Linked DNA regions of Homo sapiens: region 2 is linked to region 1. The links come from fine-mapping of genetic effects on gene expression. A gene starts in region 1. The other region holds a variant in brackets. All regions are shown on one strand. Distances are from middle to middle.

The links. PIP is the estimated chance that this variant, and not a neighbour inherited with it, causes the effect.
Region 2: its variant is the best candidate, but not a certain one, in a credible set for the expression of PBX3 in unexposed skin (GTEx, PIP 0.62).

Annotation. Positions count from the first base shown.
Region 1 is chr9:125,743,000-125,753,238 of GRCh38, forward strand. It overlaps PBX3 (PBX homeobox 3), which reads left to right and starts at 4,374. Exons shown (of 9, transcript NM_006195.6): 1 at 4,374-4,654; 2 at 5,551-5,624. The coding sequence starts at 4,455. It overlaps PBX3-DT (PBX3 divergent transcript), which reads right to left and starts at 2,930. Exons shown (of 2, transcript NR_122032.1): 1 at 2,417-2,930; 2 at 755-938. RefSeq lists silencers at 3,469-3,898, 4,149-4,198, 4,209-4,738, 5,009-5,348.
Region 2 is chr9:125,715,145-125,725,369 of GRCh38, forward strand. No RefSeq gene overlaps it. Among named protein-coding and RNA genes, the nearest start is that of MAPKAP1, 13 kb to the left of the region's middle. The variant T/C (reference allele first, on the strand shown) is at 6,204.

The DNA of each region.
Region 1 (10,239 bases):
GAGAGGTGGGACCCAATGTGGCTTTGAAGAATGGTCTGACTGTCCTTAATTTCCCTCCTCCCCTGCCTTGAGACCTGGATTCCTCTAATATAGCTGTTTATTCTCTCTTTATTAAGCACCTAGTTACTTATTTTCATTAATTTTTCAGTTTATCTGTTAAGGTCTTGTGATTTTTACTTCATAATCTTAAATAACTTTTAAAAAAATTTTAGGAGAAATGGTAGCACTACTTTGCTCAAGCTAGAGTGCAGTGGCTATTCACAAGTGTGATCATAGCATACTGCAGCCTCAAACTACTGCACTCAAGTGATTCTCCTGTTTCTGCCTCTAAAGTAGCTGGAACTACAGTTGCATGTCACCAGCCTGGCTAAATTACTTTTTTGCACAGTGTTTTATACGGTAGTCTTTGCAGCCACATAGATCAATATTTGAATTCAAGCTCTAGTACTTACTGGCTTTGTGGTCTTGTGGAAATTTCTTACTCTCTCTCATTCTATTTCTTATTTAATAACAATCCCAAGCAGGCTGTTGTGAGACTGTAATAAGATGAAGCAAGGGAACACAGAGGATAGTGTACCCCCAAAGAAAGTGCTCAATAATGGCATCTGCTGTGATAGTCACCCTATTGATGACAGAGGCAATGGTGATGTTAATATAAACTCATGGAAAGGGATGGCCATGAAGGAACATCTGCTTGGTTTTCACCACTTTGTCACTGTTAACTTTACATGAATGTCTGCTCACCAAAAGTCAATTTCATTTCCCTTGACATTTTAATAATCACTACCTTAGAAACAGCAAAGACAGACTCGGGTACTCAGGGAACTTCTGTTCTGTCATCTGTGAAGGCATCAACCTTGTGACTCAGATTCTTGAGCAGAGATCACGCAACATTCTACATGAGACACTGGCACGAGCACCAAGAGATCCTGGAACATCTGCAATTAGTTGACAGTTATATTGAGGCTTGGAAACCAGTCTAAAAAAGTTATGCTTTAAATCAACGGCAGTTGTCAATGAGCCTGTGAAGGAATCCTTGCTAGGGTCCTCAGGCTTCTACTGCAACTCATACTGATAACAACAAAAAGAGAAGCCTCCCAAGCAGAAGGTCAGTCTAATTCAATCACTTAAGGCAGAATTATGGTATCAAGTTTCCACATCACTGAATGACCATGGGTGTAGAGGAGTGTACCATAAAATAACTGTGGGTGTTAGACATTTAACAAGTTGTTTTATTCCTAATTGCTGGCATTTGCCTAACTGTTTTCTTAATTCTAATTTATGTTTTTATGTTCCAGTGTGTTTACACAGCCCATAGTTCCCAATTGCCTTTATTTGCTTAAGTGTTTCTTTATTTACTTTTTTTTTTTTTTTTTGAAAAGAAGTCTCACTCTGTCGCCCAGGCTGGAGGGGAGTGGCACAATCTCAGTTCACCGCAACCTCCACCTCCTGGGTACAAGTGATTCTCCTGCCTCAGCCTCCTGAGTAGCTGGGATTACAGGCGCCTGCCACCAAGCCCAGCTAATTTTTTGTATTTTTAGTAGAGATGGGGTTTCACCATGTTGGCCAGGCTGGTCTCAACTCCTGACCTTGTGATCCACCTGCCTCGGCCTCCCAAAGTTCTGAGATTACAGGCATGAGCCACCGGCCTATTTACATTTTTATATATGTTGCTTTGCTTACATAACTCATTGTTCGGAGTGGGCTAGAAATAACCATAAATCCCCATTGCTAATTAGCCTCATCCTCATGACTGATTAGTCAAGATTATGAGTCTAGAAGGAGGGCAGAGAGGAGTCCTAATAGTGAGTCACAGGATTATTGAATTTTACAGCTGGAAGGAATCTTAGAATTTAAGGCATCTTTCAGTTAGAATTCTGTGGTTTTGCATCCTCAGCGTTGGAGAATTATGAAAGGTTGACCGCTTGCTCCTGCGCCTTTTGGCAAAAATGCTTAAGAATTTGGTGACAGCTTTAAAAAACAAATTAAGAATAAAGAAAAAACCCAATCAATGACGATTATAAGTAACCCATAATGGGGGCTTCAAAGAAGAATTGGAAACTTGACATATCAATGGGGTATAGAAGAGCAGAGAATATTAATGAACATGAAGGGGGTTCTTCTTTGGAGGTAAGTAAGCAGAGTGGATTTTTTGGAACTCCCTCCTCAGCAGCTGTGCAGTTTGTAAGGATTTTAGCTTGCCTAACTGTAAGCTTAGCTATTAGCTTTGCAGTGGGGAGTATTTAAAAGTACACACAACATATGAAGGAAAGAACCTGGAACCGAGTAGCCTGCTTCATTCCAAGAATCCATCTGGCATTTAAAGAACTGCTTGTCCTACATTAAACCCTGCAGAGTAAGAGCCATTTTTCATATCCTCATACCCCTATTTTTGGTTTCAGGTAAGACAGCTTACTGAGTTTGGAGAAGGAACAAAGAGACTTTTCCGAACCACCGAACCAAAGGACTCATCTAGGGTGAGCTCAATGAATCTAAAATCGGGAACACACATTGCAGCCCCTGTTTGGGAAATCAGCTTAAGAGCAATCTCAAGTCTCCACAAGAGGCGGAGGTCCATATTCCAAAATAATGTGAGCCTTCAGTTATTTGTAGGTAGAATTCAATGGAAGAAGGGGTGTTATAGATACGAAAAATCGTGGCTGGCGTTACCAACATTAAATGACTCGTGGTGATGGGGTAAGTTGACAAGTGAAATCCAGTCTCTTCCTAAACAAACGTATCTTTGTAATGAAGAGCTCGTTTTTGCAGCTTCAGTACATCTGGAGGCATCGAATAGCAAACGCTGCCAAAGGAGTAGTCCCTGGATTATCAGGAGTTGCAGAGTGTGTAAAGTGTTGTAAACCTTGAAATTAGTCCTGGACTGAAGGCACTTTCCCTCCTCCCAGACTCGCTTCTCTCTGACACATTTCCCCTTTCAATGGAAAGTCTATGGCAGTCAGGTCCACTCAGCTCAGACTTCAAGTATGTGAGACCACAGGTTCCCACCTTAACTGGTCACCCATTGAGGGACAGCACAAGACCCCGGTGCTGGCGCCAACGCTGAGCTGCGCCCTCTCGGTTACCATGGCGACCGCAGGCGGGGCGAGGCCCCCACTCGCCGCTTCCCCGCCTCTGCCCAGAACCTTTCGAACGCTCCAATTGGGACGACCCTTTCTTGCCTCTGTCCCGCCCCATTCGGCTCTAAGCGCTTTGCGATTGGCCCGGGACGAGCGGCCTGGTACCCAGAGGGCACCACCTCCTGACAGGAAGAGCGGGAAAGTGCACCAGGAGCTGTCCGAGGCGTGAAGCTCACGGGCGCGGCGGGGGAGCACACGGTTGGCTTTGCAGCGAGTTGCCCACTGTCCCATACACAACCCCCCGCTCCCATGACTGCCAAAAGCATGGAGCAGGAGTCGGGGTGCGGGCACACCGTTTGTGGGCCGGCCCGGTCTATCCCGGGGGGCTAGGACGCGACGAGGTTGGAGCGAGGATCCGGCGGCACACTCCGGAGCGCGGAGTATCAGAGGCCAGAGGGAACGGGCCGGGCCCCGGGGGCGGTGCCGGCGGCGGCGGCGGGAGGCGCAGAGCCCAATGAGCGCGCGCACCGCCCCGGGGGCGGGGTCTGAGGAGCGCTCCCCCGCCCTTGCCAGCCCCCGTCCCTCCCCCCGGCGCGGGGCCGCAGTGAGTGAGTGGCACTGGCAGCCTGTCAATCCCTCGGCCCAGCGGCCTTCCAGCCCGGTCCGCGGCGGCTGCTGGCTGGGTGCGCGGCTCCGGCGGCGGCGGCGGCGACTTCTCCCGCCCTATCCATCGGCTGTCCGCCCGGCGCGCGGCCCGCCGGGGCCCTCCTCCGGGCTCAGCGCCCCCGCCGCCTCTGCCCGCCCGCTCCCAAACTTTCCTCCTCCGCCCCCCCTCGCTCCCCGCGGCCCGCCCGCAGGCCTCCTCCTCCGCCGCCGCCCGCCGCCGCCGCCGCTGCCTCCCCCGGGGCCGCCGGGGCTCGGATCCCGCCTGGCCGAGGCGGCGGCGGCGGCCGAGGAGGGCAGTGCGCAGGCTGGCGCGGGGGGCGGCGGGCGTCCCGGCAACTCGGCGGGCGCTGAGGAGCAAGTTGCGCGGGGCCGCCCGGCGGGGCGCGCGGCGGCGAGGAGGCGGCGCGGCGGCCGCGTGAGGGCAGCGGGCGCCGCCGCCTCCGCCTCCGCCACCGCCGCGGAGCCCGGCGCTTCCGCCCGCCGCTTCTCCTCAGCCTCGGCGGCGGCGGAAGCCGGAGCCGGGCGCCCGTCCTCATCGCCTCAGCCGCGGGCCCTGCCGGCCGGGCCGCCCCCTCCCCGCGCGGGCGGGGAGCGCGCGGCCGCCTCCCCCTCCCCCTCCCCCTCTTTCTTCTCCTCCCTCGTCGCCGCCGCCGCCGCCGCCGCCTCAGCCTTCGCCTCAGCCGCCGCCCGCTCCCGCCCGCGCGCGGCGGGATGGACGATCAATCCAGGATGCTGCAGACTCTGGCCGGGGTGAACCTGGCTGGCCACTCGGTGCAGGGGGGCATGGCCCTGCCGCCTCCCCCGCACGGCCACGAAGGGGCGGACGGCGACGGCAGGAAGCAGGACATCGGCGACATCCTCCACCAGATCATGACCATCACCGACCAGAGCTTGGACGAGGCGCAAGCAAAGTTGGTGTCGTCTCATTAAGCATCTTTTGTGTGTGTGCGGGAGCCGGGCCCGCGGCCGAGTCGAGGCCCGGGGTGGCGCCCGGGGCTAGGGCCGCAGCCCCCGGCGGGGAACTTTCTCCGAAAGCCGGCCGCCCGCCCCGGCCTCGGGGGGACTTGCCCGCGCCCCCCGAAGCGGGCGGGAGTCGGCAAAGTTGCTCTGGGGGGCTCGGGACGGACTCGGTGCGGCGCGGATTCCGTGGCGTCCTTTCCCCCGTCCTGCCCCTCGCAGCCCGGCCCCCTCCCAGGGATTTAAACCTCCCGCCCCGACCCCGTGCGGGCCGCGCCGCCGGGAAGTGTAACTTTCTCCTCCGGCGGGGAGTCCCGGCGCCGGCTCCCGCGGCCGCGGGACGACCTCGCGATGCGGGCGGCCACCCGGGCCCGGCGCGGGGCGATGGGCGGTTCCCTGGCGGGTCCGGGTGCGGACGGCCAAGTTCTCGGAGAGGGAGGGCCGCCTTGCAAACTTTGCCGAGCTGTCACCCTCCCGCTGGCCGCAGTCGGCCGGCCTCCTCTGCACAGGAGCGGACGCGGGAGCCCCTCCGCACCCGTCCCCTCCCCCGGGTCGCCTTCGCCTGCCCCCGGGGCGAGGCTCCCCGCGCGGGTTCGCGTCGCGTCTGCAGTGGCCGAGGCTGCTGCCTGCCGGGCAGATGGGTCCGCCTTGTTCCGGCTGCAGCTTTCGCCGCCGGGGCTTGCTGGCTGTCGGGAACTAGTCAACTGGAGTTTTTGTTGACTTCCCACGGTTCAAAAGGGCCTTCCAGAATGGGGGGCTGGAATTAAATCTTGGGTCTAACTTAAAGGAAGGCGCCATATTATTCCATAGGTGATGCTAATACCTTTGTGTTTCGTTATTTGTTTTTTAGGAAACATGCCCTGAACTGTCACAGAATGAAACCAGCGCTCTTCAGCGTCCTGTGTGAGATCAAAGAGAAAACAGGTAAGACGCTGCGCCCCGCAGTGGGCCTGGAGACCCCCGAGGTGGGGGTCGGAGCTACTCCTTCGACTCTCCAGTTGAGAGCTGCTGCTTTTGGGCACCGCCATCTTTGATCATTCTCTCCTTCCCACGTCCTGATCTTGAGAAAAAACTGCAATAAATCTGGAGTCAATTTCTCAGTTCTGCTCCTGGTGTAAAATGAAGTGTAGGTGCGGACCGGGCTGGATCGCCGTCCCTCGGCGGCCGCCCCTGGCTGCAGGCGGGGAGGGGGCCCGGAGCGCCAGCCGCCCTCTTCCCTCTCCTTTCGCCTTGTTTGTGTGTCAGTTTTTAAAAGGAGCAACGGGAGACTGGATGCCAGGACCGAGTCCCCGGGAGAAGCATCGCCCGAACTTTGTTTTACTTAGACAGTCTTAAGCTTCAGCTGCACGGATAGAAGAATAGATGCAATTGAACAGACCCCAGTAGCATGCTTGAATTAGTGTTTTAGGTGGGAAGGCTACTTTAGAGAATCGAGGAAGGGTAATGATGTGTAGACACATACGATGTATTACATCTGTTAATACTTGTATTATTTTGTATTCTGAAGTCATTACACTTGTAACTGTGCTTAATATATAAAGTATAAAAAGGTCTACAGATGCAGGTTAAACAATTTTGAAGTGTCCAAGTCAGGGAATATATAAGAAGATAGGTTTTGCAGAAGTGCTGGAATGAAAACTACAGGTACATATTTGGCAAATTTTTGGCAATTCGTTTCAGTTTAACTTTCTTGTCAGACTTTATTAATTGAAGGTCTTTCAGTCTTGACGTGAGGTAACTGCTCAAACTGAAGCAGAGATTTGGATGTTTTAGTTTGTATTTGGCATTATCTTCCCTGTATGTGGCAAACAAGTACATTAAACAAGCTCTACTGTTTATTTTTTTCCTGTTCTTTTCTTTCTTTTTTTTTTTTTTTTTGGTGTGTGTTGGATGTATGGTATTTTAAAGTTGCCATTTTGAAAGTTGAGGCAAAGGAGAAAAAGTTGAAGTCCAGGATATAGCACTATCCAAGGGAGGCTATTTAGAAGGTTACATGTGATTGTGTTTAAATTGAGTGTACAAATAGCACAGTGCAAATAATTGTTAGGTTGATAGGCGAGTCAGCCTTCTTTGAAACAGGTTTTTCGCTTTGCAATACTATTCTGATCCTAAAAGTAATCAAGAAAAGATGATGAGTTATTGCTGTCTATTAAATATATATGCTAAACCATAATAAGCAGCAAATAATAAGGGAGGCCAAAGAGTACTTTTCCTGGTTTTCATTCACATATTATGGCTGGTTTCTTAATGCTCAGTGATCCTTTCTTGAATTACTAACTTTTATTTTGTGTTGATTTTTAGCTACCTTTAGAAAGCGTTTTGATTTAAAGCAGTAGATAATTTTTATCTGACTGTAAAATAAGACATCTAGCATTCAGTCTTGAAGATTCTTAGTTTAGAAGCTTAAAAGTATGCAATTCTCAGTAAATTCTGATGCTTAGTGTCCAAGGGTTTTCCTGCTATCAGGGCTCCACTTCAGTTTCTGCTGACAGCCAAGCACTGGGGTATTGACTATGTTGTGAATATTAAGATTGATTCGACTTTATACAGCCTTATATTACTAGGGAGAGGGGATGGATACTTATCGCTTCTCATCCCCTTCTCATTATTTGTATTTATTTATTTATTTTTGCCTTTTTAAAGTTTTGGCCTAGCTAGCTTGAGAACTAAACCCAGCAAACTGCTTTTCATGTTGAGACATTTAGCAGCAGGCAGAATTCAATTAGGAAGCATAAGTCCTTTAGTTGCTTATTTGCACAGGACTTAGTTACACCATTCTGAAAGGAAAGTATAGTCAACCACATGTCAAAGGTGAGTTACGAAAAAGAAACAAATCTTTTCAAAGTCTGGGATTACTGGCAGAGAGAGCTTTGGTAGGGCTATTGCTATTTAAAAACCAAGAGGCAGCTGACAAAAGAAATTTTTGTGTTTTAAAATTGTTTCTGGGGCTTTCAGTGATAACTTGTAAATTAGATTCTCTTTTTGTGCTTTGGCCAGTGGATCCACATTTGCACGTTATCTCTTTTGTAAAAAGCCAACAGCCGACAAAGAGTAAAGGCGGCTGTCTGGGTAGAGGCATCTTCCTGCTAGCCTCTCTAAGCTCGAGAGGGATGGGATTTAAGTACTGAGTGATTGATGGGGGTGAAGCTCTTTCTCTTCTTTCCATTCTCCCCTACTACCCATAGCTTCACCTCACTCTCCAAAACTAGTCTTAGAATGAGACAGGGACTCAGAATCCTCAATTCGAAATAAAACAGCTGTGTAGACATTAGTGTTACCAAAGCAAAGAAAGCGGGGCTGCAAATTCCAAGCCCCCCCACTCCTGCTTCCATAGTCGGTCATGCTTTAGAAACATGAACTTATAAAAGAAACATTGTAGAATATATGTATATTGCATAAATATTTTTTAAAAATCATTTTATTTAATCTAATAATACCTAAAAATTAATTCTTTGTAATTTAGAGAAAGTTTACCTAGTCATTTATGAATAGAAACCAGAAACATTATGTTGATGACTCTATTCTGCTTAATGAAGGGGGTTGAGGGTGAACTGTCATTTCAGTGGATAATGTCATTTCAGTTGTGCTTTTCTTCTAAAACAAAACAAAATCATTTTAAAAAAAATCTGTTTATTTGTAGCTCTGCCAGTGGATTTTGAGGTTTCTGATCAGGCAGTGAACACTGCCAGTTCTTATGCACATGGGGGATTTAGTTTAGAAAACATCTGTTTCCCCCTCTACCATATATGAAAAGGTATTTTTCCCTTCTGACAGATAAATGGGTAATCTACTACAATTATATTATTTTCTTGTTGAGAGGTAAGGAAAGTATACTTCTACTATAAGATGCTGCTTTTTCTTGAGAATATATTCTTTCGTAAAATTGATCATACCATTATTTTTGGGCAGAAATGTCTCTCATTGTTGAATTGTGATATTTGTGCATTTTGAGAGCACCCAAAAAGTTGTAGGCTTTAAAATAAAAATAGTTGTTTATTTTAAACCAAGTAACCAGTGAGATTATTGTTGATATGTTAAGATTTTTCTCCTGATTTTTAAAGCCATATTTTATCATCTGTCTCTTATTAAATATCCCTGATGCCACAAGGTCTGCTCACCTGCATACCTCTTTTGGTGTATGCCCCCACCTCTTTTTGGTCATCTTAATCTTAATTGTTGAAGTGCTTTCCTTTGTGAAATATTTCATCCTGAAAAATCTTGTCTTCTTTCCAAAGCCCTTAATTGTGCGAGTTTAAGTGAAGGAAATAGTTCTTTTTCAAGAAAAAAATATTTATTTTTTAAATGAAATCCCACATTTTAGTAGATAATATGAATCACATTATTGTGAAAAATGTTATGCATGAAAAAAAATAAACACAACCTTTTCCTTTTCAAATAATAGGTTAAAATACTCCATGTTGATGGCTGCCAACCAAACTCTGATTTATTGCCACCACAAACCCTAAATAGCGTTCATTTACTAGTAATGTCTAATGGCATACATGATGGTTTGCCAGATTTGTAGCCTTTGTGAGGCTTATAAGTAGGACTGACTTGGGAAGATCATAAAACTTAATGAACTTCTCTACTGCAGGAGGTGTCCGCAGGGGAAGAGAAAGGCCTGCTTGGTTGGTTGGGCTGGTTGAAGTATTTTTTATGTTTAAGGAGAAGAAAATGACTAGTAAAAATGCCTTACTTTTAAAGGAACCCTCCCTAGAAAGAGTCATAAGAATTTTAGATATTAAAACTAGATCAAGAGTATAGTTTACAAGTGAGGTTTTATGTGCATTTAGTATATGATGTGAGATTAAACCTTTTATCTTTATTGCTAGAAGTGTGACTAGCTTTCAAAGAGACAAGGCAGTACTGTCATTCGACACCTCTCTATTTAATTGTGAACCCACAGGTTTAGAGACTCTTTGGAGTCTTTTTTTGGTGTGCTTCTCTTTTTAAGGTTTCAATATAAAAATCTGTTACATTTTTCTTTGTACAGTGCTGTGTGATTCTTTTAATTCTACATATGTAAAAATCAATTTTTTCAAGTGAAAATTTAGCAAGAAAGGTGAAAATTGTTATATATTAGTCTAAATGTTATTATATATTTTGCATATGCTTTTAAGTTGCTCTTGCACTATTTCCAATATAATTATCATCTTTTGTTTCAAGTTTTAAAAACAAATGCACTGTTCCATACATGATTCCTTTTTGTGTTTTCATGAAACACATTTTGTTTTAATGAACTTATTTTCAAGATTTTAACAACTTTTTATTGTGGACACCTTTGAAACATAACATGCAGAGAGCAGAGACTCTTGAACCTCCCATGAACTCAGTGCCCATCTTCAGCAATTAGCAATACTTGGCCAGTCGTGTTTTCTCTGTAATTCCCACCATTCCAAAATTATTTTGAAGCAAATTTTAATGGTTCTTTAATGTTTTAAGTTTCATATCAATTTTAAGCATTAGGTCTGCTTATATTGGAAATATTAAGTGATTAAACAGGAAAAATACAAAGTCAGAGTATCTTGGAAATGTTATA
Region 2 (10,225 bases), 28 kb before region 1:
CTACATTTATATTTGTAGTCCCTTTCCAAAATCCAGGTCCTGTAACCAGCTTCTAATAGTACCTTTTCTTGCTTTAAAGGTTAGCTAGTACTGTGAGTGCCAGCCCCTAAATTAATTGATGTTAACAGTACTTAGAACGTAAAAAACAGACTCGTATGTTTTGTCGAATGCAACTTCCAAGAATGTATAATTAACAGTGTCTCCATTAATATACAGTATGTTCAACAGTGAGACACCACTATCATAAATAAAGGTAGACATGGATAAATTTATAATTAAAAATGCATTAGAAATTACAAGCATAATTTATTTACTAATGTGCACTGGAATAAATTTTATGTGTAATATTTTAAAACTGGGCATTAATAAATAATAGTGAACATAAAATGTTTTTGTAGCTAAAATATTTCAATAAATATTAGTAACTTAAATGTGCAGCAGTTATAATTGCTCTGAAGTAAAGTTTATAGAATGCAATCCCAATGTAGAACACTGTTTCTTGGGTGTATTCAAAATATCAGAAATGCATAGCTGTCCTTCTTCAAAGCTGACAAATCAGGTATTCAACGTAGTGCCTACAATGATTGAAGAATAAAAGCACAGGACACCCAAATAGTGAATAACTAATCATTATTTGAGATAACCAAGACCCTTCCGAGAAAGTGTATTTACAGACTCGTGGATTCAAATCTTACCTACCTGCTTGGCCTACACTAATTTGGAGCAATTTCTCCCACCTGAAAACTCCTATGGGTCTTTTTGAACCTTTCACTTAAAAATTGGTTTTACCTGCTGGGCATAGTGGCTCACACCTGTAATCTCAGAACTTTGGGAGGCCAAGGAGGGCAGATCACTTGAGGTCAGGAGTTCGAAGTCAGCCTAGCCAACATGGTGAAACCCCGTCTCTACTAAAAATACAAAAATTAGCCAGGCATGGAGATGCACGCCTGTGGTCCCAGCTGCTCAGGAGGCTGAGGCAGGAGAATTGCTTGAACCTGAGAGGCGGAAGTTGCAGTAAACCAAGATCAGGCCACTGAACTCCAGCCTGGGTGACAGAGGGATACTCCATCTCAAAAAAAAAAAAGCCGGGCGCGGTGGCTCATGCCTGTAATCTCAGCACTTTGGGAGGCTGAGGCAGGTGGATCACAAGGTCAGGAGATCGAGACCATCCTGGCTAACACAGTGAAACCCCATCTCTACTAAAAATACAAAAAATTAGCCAGGCGTGGTGGCGGGCGCCTGTAGTCCCAGCTACTCCAGAGGCTGAGGCAGGAGAATGGCGTGAACCCGGGAGGCAGAGCTTGCAGTGAGCTGGGCGACAGAGTGAGACTCCATCTCAAAAAATAAAAAAATAAAAAATTTACCTTACCTTGACTGTGCTTTTGTTCTATCAGGGGCAAACAACTCCAAGATGCCAAGCACTATTCTAAGTGCTCATATATTTTATTGACGCCATGCTCTTGACCACTTCACTCTATTAGCTCCACTATTTAAAATATTCTATTTATTGAACTTTCTGAGCGTTCACATCATGTGTCCTTAGTGAGCTATAAGTCCTACAACACACAGGAATACCGTATTTGTTCATTTGATGTGCCTGAAAAGGGAGCTTGTGTCTACATGTAAGGTAGGTTTTCCCAGGTAAGACTGTAGCTGATTAACAGTAATGAATGGCGTCCATTATTGGTTGAGCCTTACTTTGGGCCAGGCCTGGCCTAATGGCTTTGTACCCCTAGTCTTATTTAATCCTCATAACAATCCAATAGATAGATGTTATTATTATCCCTATTTAACAAATGAGGAAACTGAGCATCAGAAAGGTGAAGTCACTTGCTCAAGATCATACAACTAGTAACTGGCTGACTTGGAAGCCCCAAGCGCCACACTTCCCACAATGATAATGAGCAGCCCTTGTTGTGAAAATAACCATGTCCTTTCACTACATCATGTTGCCTTCCAGCATCTCACGATCCTTTCTGCTGGGATTTTCCCCCCATTGATATCTAATCTAAGTCCCTCCTGCTCCCATTTAAGATAATTCCCTCATGTCCTGTCCTTAGTAGACAAGAACTGATGTTTAAAACACATGAGCAATATCCCTTTAGATATTTGAAGATGGCTATTAAATTCTCCTTAACCTTCTTTTCTCCATGATACGTTATTAGTAACCCCAATTCCTTTTGCCTTTTCTCACAGGGACTTTTTTTTTTTTTTTTTTTTGAGATGGAGTTTCGCTGTTGTTGCCCAGGCTGGAGTGCAATGGTGAGATCTCAGCTCACCACAACCTCCGCCTCCCGGGTTCAAGCGATTCTCCTGCCTCAGCCTCCCAAGTAGCTGGAATTACAGGCACACATCACCACGCTGGCTAATTTTGTTTTAGTAGAGACGGGGTTTCACCATGTTGGCCATGGCTGGTCTCGAACTCCTGACCTCAGGTGATCTGCCTGCCTCAGGCCTCCCAAAGTGCTGGGATTACAGGCATGAGCACCGTACCAGGCCCCACAGGGACTCTTTCTAAAGCATTCCACCCTCTGAGCCATGCTCCTAGAAAGAGGTTTCAGGTTTTCCAAATCTCAATTTATTATCATCACCTTCAAAGAGTATTTATTAAGCACCCATATAGGCATGTGAACTGTGCTAGAATTTATACAAGCCAGGAAAGCAGATGTTGCCCTGGATCTAAGAGGATATTTGAGGCCAGGCGCAATGGCTCATGCCTGTAATCCCAGCACTTTGGGACGCCAAGGTGGTCAGATTACCTGAGGTCAGGAGTTTGAGACCAGCTGGACCAACATGGTGAAACCCCGTCTCTACTAAAAATACAAAATTAGCCAGGCGTGGTGGTGCATGCCTGTAATCCCAGCTATTTGGGAGGCTGAGGCAGGAGAATCACTTGAACCAGGGAGGCAGAAGTTGCAGTGAGCCAAGATTGCGCCATTGCACTCCAGCCTAGGCAATAGAGTGAGACTCCGTCTAAAAAAAAAAAGAAGAAAGAAAGAATACTGCCTCTGAAATGAGTTTAAGCGAAACTAGTACCTAGAACAATTAATAAATACTAGCTCAGAAGTAATATACAACTAAACTAAACAAACAAAAAAAACAAGTAGTCTGAAGGCTGAAGACACAGTCTTGGCCTGCTTAGAGCTTTTCTGCTTTTCTTGAAAAATTGGAAAGATTAGCGACATTGTGTCTGCAGCCCCCTTGTCAACAATCAGGCTACCTGGTTGTTGTGATGACTGGTGGATGTAATGAAGGCCAGGTGGCAGCCGCTACACATCATGACACTTGGGCTGTGGCTTTTGTCATACCTGGCCTGCAGCACTCATTTGCTTGACCTGACAGGCCTTACAGGTACTTGAGTTTGAGCCCCTGGTCTGGCTTTAGGAAACAGCCTAAGAATGAATTTCTGCCTTTGCATAGCAGAGGTATTGGTGGGGAGAGGGTATAGTTAAGGAGAAAGTCTCAAAACCCTCTTCACCTGGGAGAACCTGTTATTCTCCTCAAACCCAAGTACAATTTCCTGCATAATCTGGAGATTATGCTAGAGAAAGAGGCTCTAGAAAATAAAGAGTGGCCGGGTGCGGTGGGTCACACCTGTAATCCCAGCACTTTGGGAGGCCGAGGTGGGCGGATCACGAGGTCAGGAGATTGAGACCATCCAGGCTAATACAGTGAAACCCCATCTCTACTAAAAATACAAAACACTGGCTGGGCGTCGTGACACGCCTCTGTAGGCCCAGCTACTAGGGAGGTTGAGGCAGCAGAATTGCTTGAACCCAGGAGGCAGAGGTTGCAGTGAGCCGAGATCACACCACTGCACTCCAGCCTGGGCGACAGAGCAAGACTCCATCTCAAAATAAATAAATAAATAAATAAATAAATAAATAAATAAAATTAATAAAGAGGAGTGGAGCTGCAAATTGTTCATCTTTGTATTTCCCAGTTATTTGACAAAATCTCGGCACAAAGTGTTGCTTTGAATGAAAGAAGCTAATTCTGGCTTCAGCTCATTTGTGACTTCGGTGGTCAGAGTCACACCTCTTCTCTGTGTCTCGGTTTTCCCATTTATGGAGTGGAATGGTTTTCCCATTTATAGACTCTACCTGGGCAGAATCATATGATGCCATTTTTTGAGTGACAAAATGTTGTATGTATGTATGGTACAAAAGATGTAAATCTGCCTCTCAAAGATGTCTGTAGATTTTGGCCGGGCGCCATGGCTCACGCCTGTAATCCCAACAATTTGGGAGGCGGATCACCTGAGGTCAGGAGTTCGACACCAACCTGGCCAATATGGTGAAACTTGCTCTTTACTAAAATGTAAAGAACTTAGCTGGGTGTGGTGGTGGGTGCCTATAATCCCAGCTACTCAGGAGGCTGAGGTAAGAGAATCACTTGAACCCCAGAAGCAGAGGTTGCAGTGAGCAGCGATCCTGCCACTGCACTCCAGCCTGGACAACAGAGGGAGACACTATCTTAAAAAAAAAAAAAAAAGAAAGAAAGAAAGAAAGGAAAGAAAAAAGTCTAGATTTTAACATTCTTTCTTCAAGAAGTACATAAGTTTTTTTTTTTTTTTTGGTTTTTTTTGAGACAGAGTCTCGCCATTGCCCAGGCTAGAGTGCAGTGGTGCGATCTCGGCTCACTGTAACCTCCGCCTCCTCGTTCAAGCGATTCTCCTGCCTCAGCCTCCCAAGTAGCCGGAACCACAGGCAGGCACATGCCGCCACAACCAGCTACTTTTTGTATTTTTGGTAGAGATGGGTTTTCGCCGTGTTGGCCAAGCTGGTCTCAAACTCTTGACCTCAAGTGATCTGCCAGCATCAGCTTCCCAAAGTGCTGGGATTATAGGTTTGAGCCACCTCGCCAGGACCATAAGTTGCATTTGTTGTTGTTGTTGAGACAGGGTCTCACTCTGTCACCCAGGCTGGAATGCAATGGCGCAATCTCCGCTCACTGCGACCTCCGCCTCCCGGGTTCAAGCGATTCTCATGCCTCAGCCTTCCGCGTAGCTGGGATTACAGGCATGAGCCCCCCCACCCAGCTAATTTTTGTATTTTTAGTAGAGACGGGGTTTCACCATGTTGGCCAGGCTGGTCTCAAACTCCTGACCTCAAGTGAGCTGGCTGCCTTGGCCTCCCAAAGTTCTGGAATTACAGGCGTGAGCCACCATGGCTGCCTGGCCGCATAAGTTTTTGAAGTACAAATTTTTCCTTCAGATTCCACAATAGCGATTTTTAATTAATAACTTTTCATTTTGAATTAAAAATGTAGTATTTAGACATTTTCCGTTTTCCTGAATGTGTAATCCTAAAAAAATAAATTCACTCACCATGAGTGTACACCTATTGCCAAGATCCTGTGTTTTTTTTAATACCATTCTCCAGTAAAAACAAAACAAAACAAACAAACAAACAAAGCACCAGGCGCAGTGGCTCACATCTGTAATCCTAACACTTTGGGAAGCCAGCCGAGGTGGGAAGATCACTTGAGTCCAGGAGTTCTAGACCTGCCTGGGCAACATAGTGAGACCATGTCTCTACAGAATAATTTTAAAATTAGCTGGGTATAGTGGTGCACACCTGTTGTCCCAGCTACTTAGGAGCCTGAGGTAGGAGAATCGCTTAGGCCTGAAAGATTGAGGTTGCAGTGAGCTGTGATGGCACCACTGCACTCCAGCCCGGGCAACAGAGCAAGATTCTGTCTCAAAAAATAACTACAAACAAACAACATAAATATAAAGCTGAAGTCCTCCTTGAGTGTTCCTGTATACCTGCAGTTCCTCCCTGGGGTTAATCTCTGGAGTTGTTTGTGAATGTCCGCAGGCAAGCCTGGCTAATTTTTTTGTAGAGATGGGGGTCTTACTATGTTGCCCAAGCTGGTCTCCAATTCCTGGACTCAAGTGATCCTCTTGCCTCAGCCTCCTAAAGTTTTGGGTTTACAGGCATGAGCCAAAGTGCCTGGCTATGAAATATTTTTTGAAAAATATTTCAGGCTGGGTGTGGTGGCTCATGCCTGTAATCCCAGCACTTTGGGAGGCTGAGGCGGGAAGATTGCTTCAGGCCAGGAGTTCGAGACCATCCTAGCCAACATGGTGAAACCCCATCTCTAATAAAAATACAATAATTAGCCAGGTGTGGTGGCAGGCGTCTGTACTCTCAGCTGCTCAGGAGGCTGAGGCATGAGAATCGCTTGAACCCGGGAGG[T/C]AGAGGTTGCAGTGAGTCAAGATCATGCCACTGCATTCCAGTCTGGGTGACAGAGTGAGACTCTGTCTTGAGAAAAAAAAAATAATGAAATTGGCCAGGCATGATGGCTCAAGCCTGTAATCCCAGCGCTTTGGGAGGCCGAGGCGGGCAGATCACGAGGTCAGAAGTTTGACATCAGCCTGGCCAGCATGGTAAAACCCCATCTCTACTAAAAACACAAAAAATTAGCTGGGCCTGGTGGCACGCGCCTGTAGTCCCAGCTACTCAGGAGGCTGAGGCAGGAGACTTGCTTGAACCCAGGAAGCAGTGAGAATTGTTTGAACTCCAGCCTGGGTGACAGAGCAAGACTCTGTCTCAAAAATAATAATAATAATAATGAAATTTTAAAATATAATAAAAAATAAAAAATATTTCAAAGAGAACATAATCAATATTGTTTGTATAATCAGAAAAATAGATAAGAAAATAAACAAATATTTAAAATGAAAATCCATTGCTCCCTATCAGTCACAGAAACATTAATTGTAACAAATGTACCCCCCACTGACCAAGACCCCAGACTTTGAGCCCTGAGCTCCCCTTCCCAGGGCCAGCAGTATAGCCTGTTCCCTTCTTTTGGTTGGGTCTCAGCTGGTCATGGCTTTGCTCCTTCCTCTTCATCCGTTGCCCTAAAGACGTCTCTCAGGATGCTCTTCATGGGTGATGTGAAGGACAAGATATGGAAGCTTCATTCAGGACCCGATAAAAATTTACAATTAGCTACCCCAATTTTTTTTGAGACGGTCAAGCCTCACCCATCCCCATTTTATTATATTTTATTTTTATTTATTTATTTATTTTTGAGACAGGGTCTCGCTCTGTCATCCAGGCTAGAGCACAGTGGTGTGATCTGGGCTTACTGCAACTTCCACTTCCTGGGTTCAAGCGATTCTCTGCCTCAGCCTCCCAAGTAGCTGGAACTACAGGCACGAGCCACCACGCCCGGCTAATTTTTGTGGTTTTAGTAGAGACGGGGTTTCACCATGTTGGCCAGGCTAGTCTCAAACTCCTGATCTCAGGTGATCCACCCTCCTCGGCCTCCCAAAGTTCTGGGATTACAGGCGTGAACCACTGTGCCCAGCCGCTACCCCAATTTTTAAAATATTTACCTTCCCCTACTTTCCTGTCCCAAGGGGTTGTCAAGCATTTCTGACCCGGAATGGTGATGATAATGTTGGCCATTGTTTATTTATTCAACAACTCGGTTTTTTTTTGTTTTTTTTTTTTTTTTTTTTTTTTTTTGAGACGGAGTCTCGCTCTGTCGCCCAGGCTGGAGTGCAGTGGCAAGATCTCTGCTCACTGCAAGCTCTGCCTCCCGGGTTCACGCCATTCTCCTGCCTCAGCCTCCTGAGTAGCTGGGCCTACAGGCACCCACCACCACGCCCGGCTAATTTTTTTTTTGTATTTTTAGTAGAGACGGGATTTCACCATGTTCACCAGGTTGGTCTCGATCTCCTGACCTCGTGATCCACCCACCTCAGCCCCACAAAGTACTGGGATTACAGGCGTGAGCCACCGCGCCCGGCTTCTCAACAACTCGATTTATTGAGCACCTGCCCAGGCACTGTGTCAAGATGCTAGGGATAGAATCAGTGAACAAAACAGACAAAAGATTCTCCCTTCAAGGAGTTTAAATTCTAATGGAAGGAGAATGACAATATTGAAAATATTTATAAGTAATCCCTCAGATCGCATAAGAGTGATATTTAGCTATGGAGAAAATAAAGCAGAGAAGAGGGACAAGAAGTGCTGGGTTGAGATTCAATTTTAAGTAGATGGGATGATGGGGGTGGCTCACTGACTGGTAGTGTTTGAGCAGAAATGTAGTTATTTGAAGAATTATAAGACCTTAGTGAAGTACTTTGTAAGTATGATGTCTTTAAAACTACCCTACCAGCATAGGCAACATAGGGAGATAGTCTTTATACACACACACACACACAACCTAGCTGGGCATGGTGGCACGCGCGTGTGGTCCTAGCTACTTGAGAGACTAAGGTAGGAGGATTGCTTGGGCCTGGGAGGTCGGGGTTGCAACCATGATTACACCACTGTACTCCAGCCTGGGTGACAGAGCAAGACCCTGTCTCAGAAATAAATAAATAAACAAAAATTAAATAATTTTAAAATCGCCCTAAGACATAAATATTCTAATTTTATGGTAGTCCCATTTCACAGATGAGAAAACTGAACTTTGCAGTAGAGCAGCAATCTGCCCAAATTCGCAAATGGGAAGGGCCCAGCTGGGTTTGAACCCTTTGAGGGTGGGATCTTAACCACAACTCTGTTCTATAATAGTTTAACCTATTTTCCAATCTCTGATGTGCTGTCGGTTTGGATCCTGTGGCCCCACTCTTTTAGGCACTTGAGGCAGACTGGTCTTTTCCTGCTATAGGCTCTTCTCCGTGTTTTCCTCCTGCCTTCTGACAAGCTCCTTCGAATGACAGCTTCCCATGTTGGACTTACTCTTGTGGCTTCCCCCCTGCCCTCCAAAGTCACACATAAAAAATCCTGCCGTGGACTGATCCTCATAATAGCCTGTTCTTCTCCTTCTCCCTGGTGGGGATGAGAGTGGGAGAACCAGACAATTCAGCTGTGACAACCCAGGAACAATTCCGTTTAATTTTTTGACCCGCATTGGGAAAAAGCCAGTTGATTCTCTTAACGGGCAAGGTCATTGAAAACTAAAAAAGCCCTAACTCGTTTAATGTTCATTTTTCCATGTTATCAATTCTGGGTAAAACAATAGTCATGCTGTCCATTGCAAATTACCTTTCAGGAGCCAGAAGTCCGCATGGAAGGAGCATGCTGCTTAGAGGACAAAGGAAACAATGCCTGCAGAGGACATTCTGGAAGGGAGAGGGAAATAAAGAATTAGAACTTCACGGCCAGGCGTGGTGGCTCACACCTGTAATCCCAGCACTTTGGGAAGCCAAGGTGAGCAGATCACTTGAGGTCGCGAGTTTGAGACCAGCCTGGCAAACATGGTGAAACCCTGTCTCTACTAAAAATACCAAAATAAGCTGGGCGTGGTGGCAGGCCCCTGTAATCCCAGCCACTCAGAAGACTGAGGCACGAGAATCACTTGAACCCAGGCGGCAGTGGTTGCAGTGAGCAGAGATCGCACCATTGGACTCCAGCCTGGGCGACGGAGTGAGACTCTCTCAAACAACAACAACAGACCCTTCACAACCACCAAGGAAAAGGTGTGGTTTGGATTTGCTGCATACAATGTGCCATAAAATCAGAAAAGAACTTTACTACCCGACTTAGAATTTCTCCCTTATGTTTATGGAACACATGTTTTGCACACGCCACCTCTTTTAATGCTAACACTAAGAAACAGTTACTGTCATGGCACCCACTTCAGAGATGAAGAACTGAGGCTTAGGGAAGTGAAGGGTATTTTTAGGCCAGTCACAGTGGCTCACGCCTGTAATACCAGCACTTTGGGAGGCCAAGGCAGGTGGATCACCTGAAGTCAAGAGTTCGAGACCAGCCTGACAGACATAGCAAAACCCTGTCTCTACTAAAAATACAAAATTAGCCGGGCATGGTGGTGCACACCTGTAATCCCAGCTACTCAGGAGGCTGAGGCAGGAGAATCACTTCAACCTGGGAGGAGGAAGTTGCGGTGAGCTGAAATCATGCCATTGCACTCCAGCCTGGGTGATAGAACAAGACTCCATCTCAAAAAAAAAAAAAAAAAAAGAGAAGTTAAGGATATTATTGAAGATCACTTGCAGAGTGGACATGTAAACTCAGGTCTGACCAAAGCTCTGACTTTTAATCAAGATGCCCTGTCTGTCCCATAAGAAGACCTTGAAAACACACTGGTGAGTAAGAAGGTTAAACAGCAAAAAGTTGTGCTAATCACTGCATATATTAAACATTCCCTGGAAATACCAACTTTCCTGAGTGGAAATATTCACCTTGCCCCTCCCACTTTTAGGGTATTTTAAAAAATACTCAGAGATCACCTG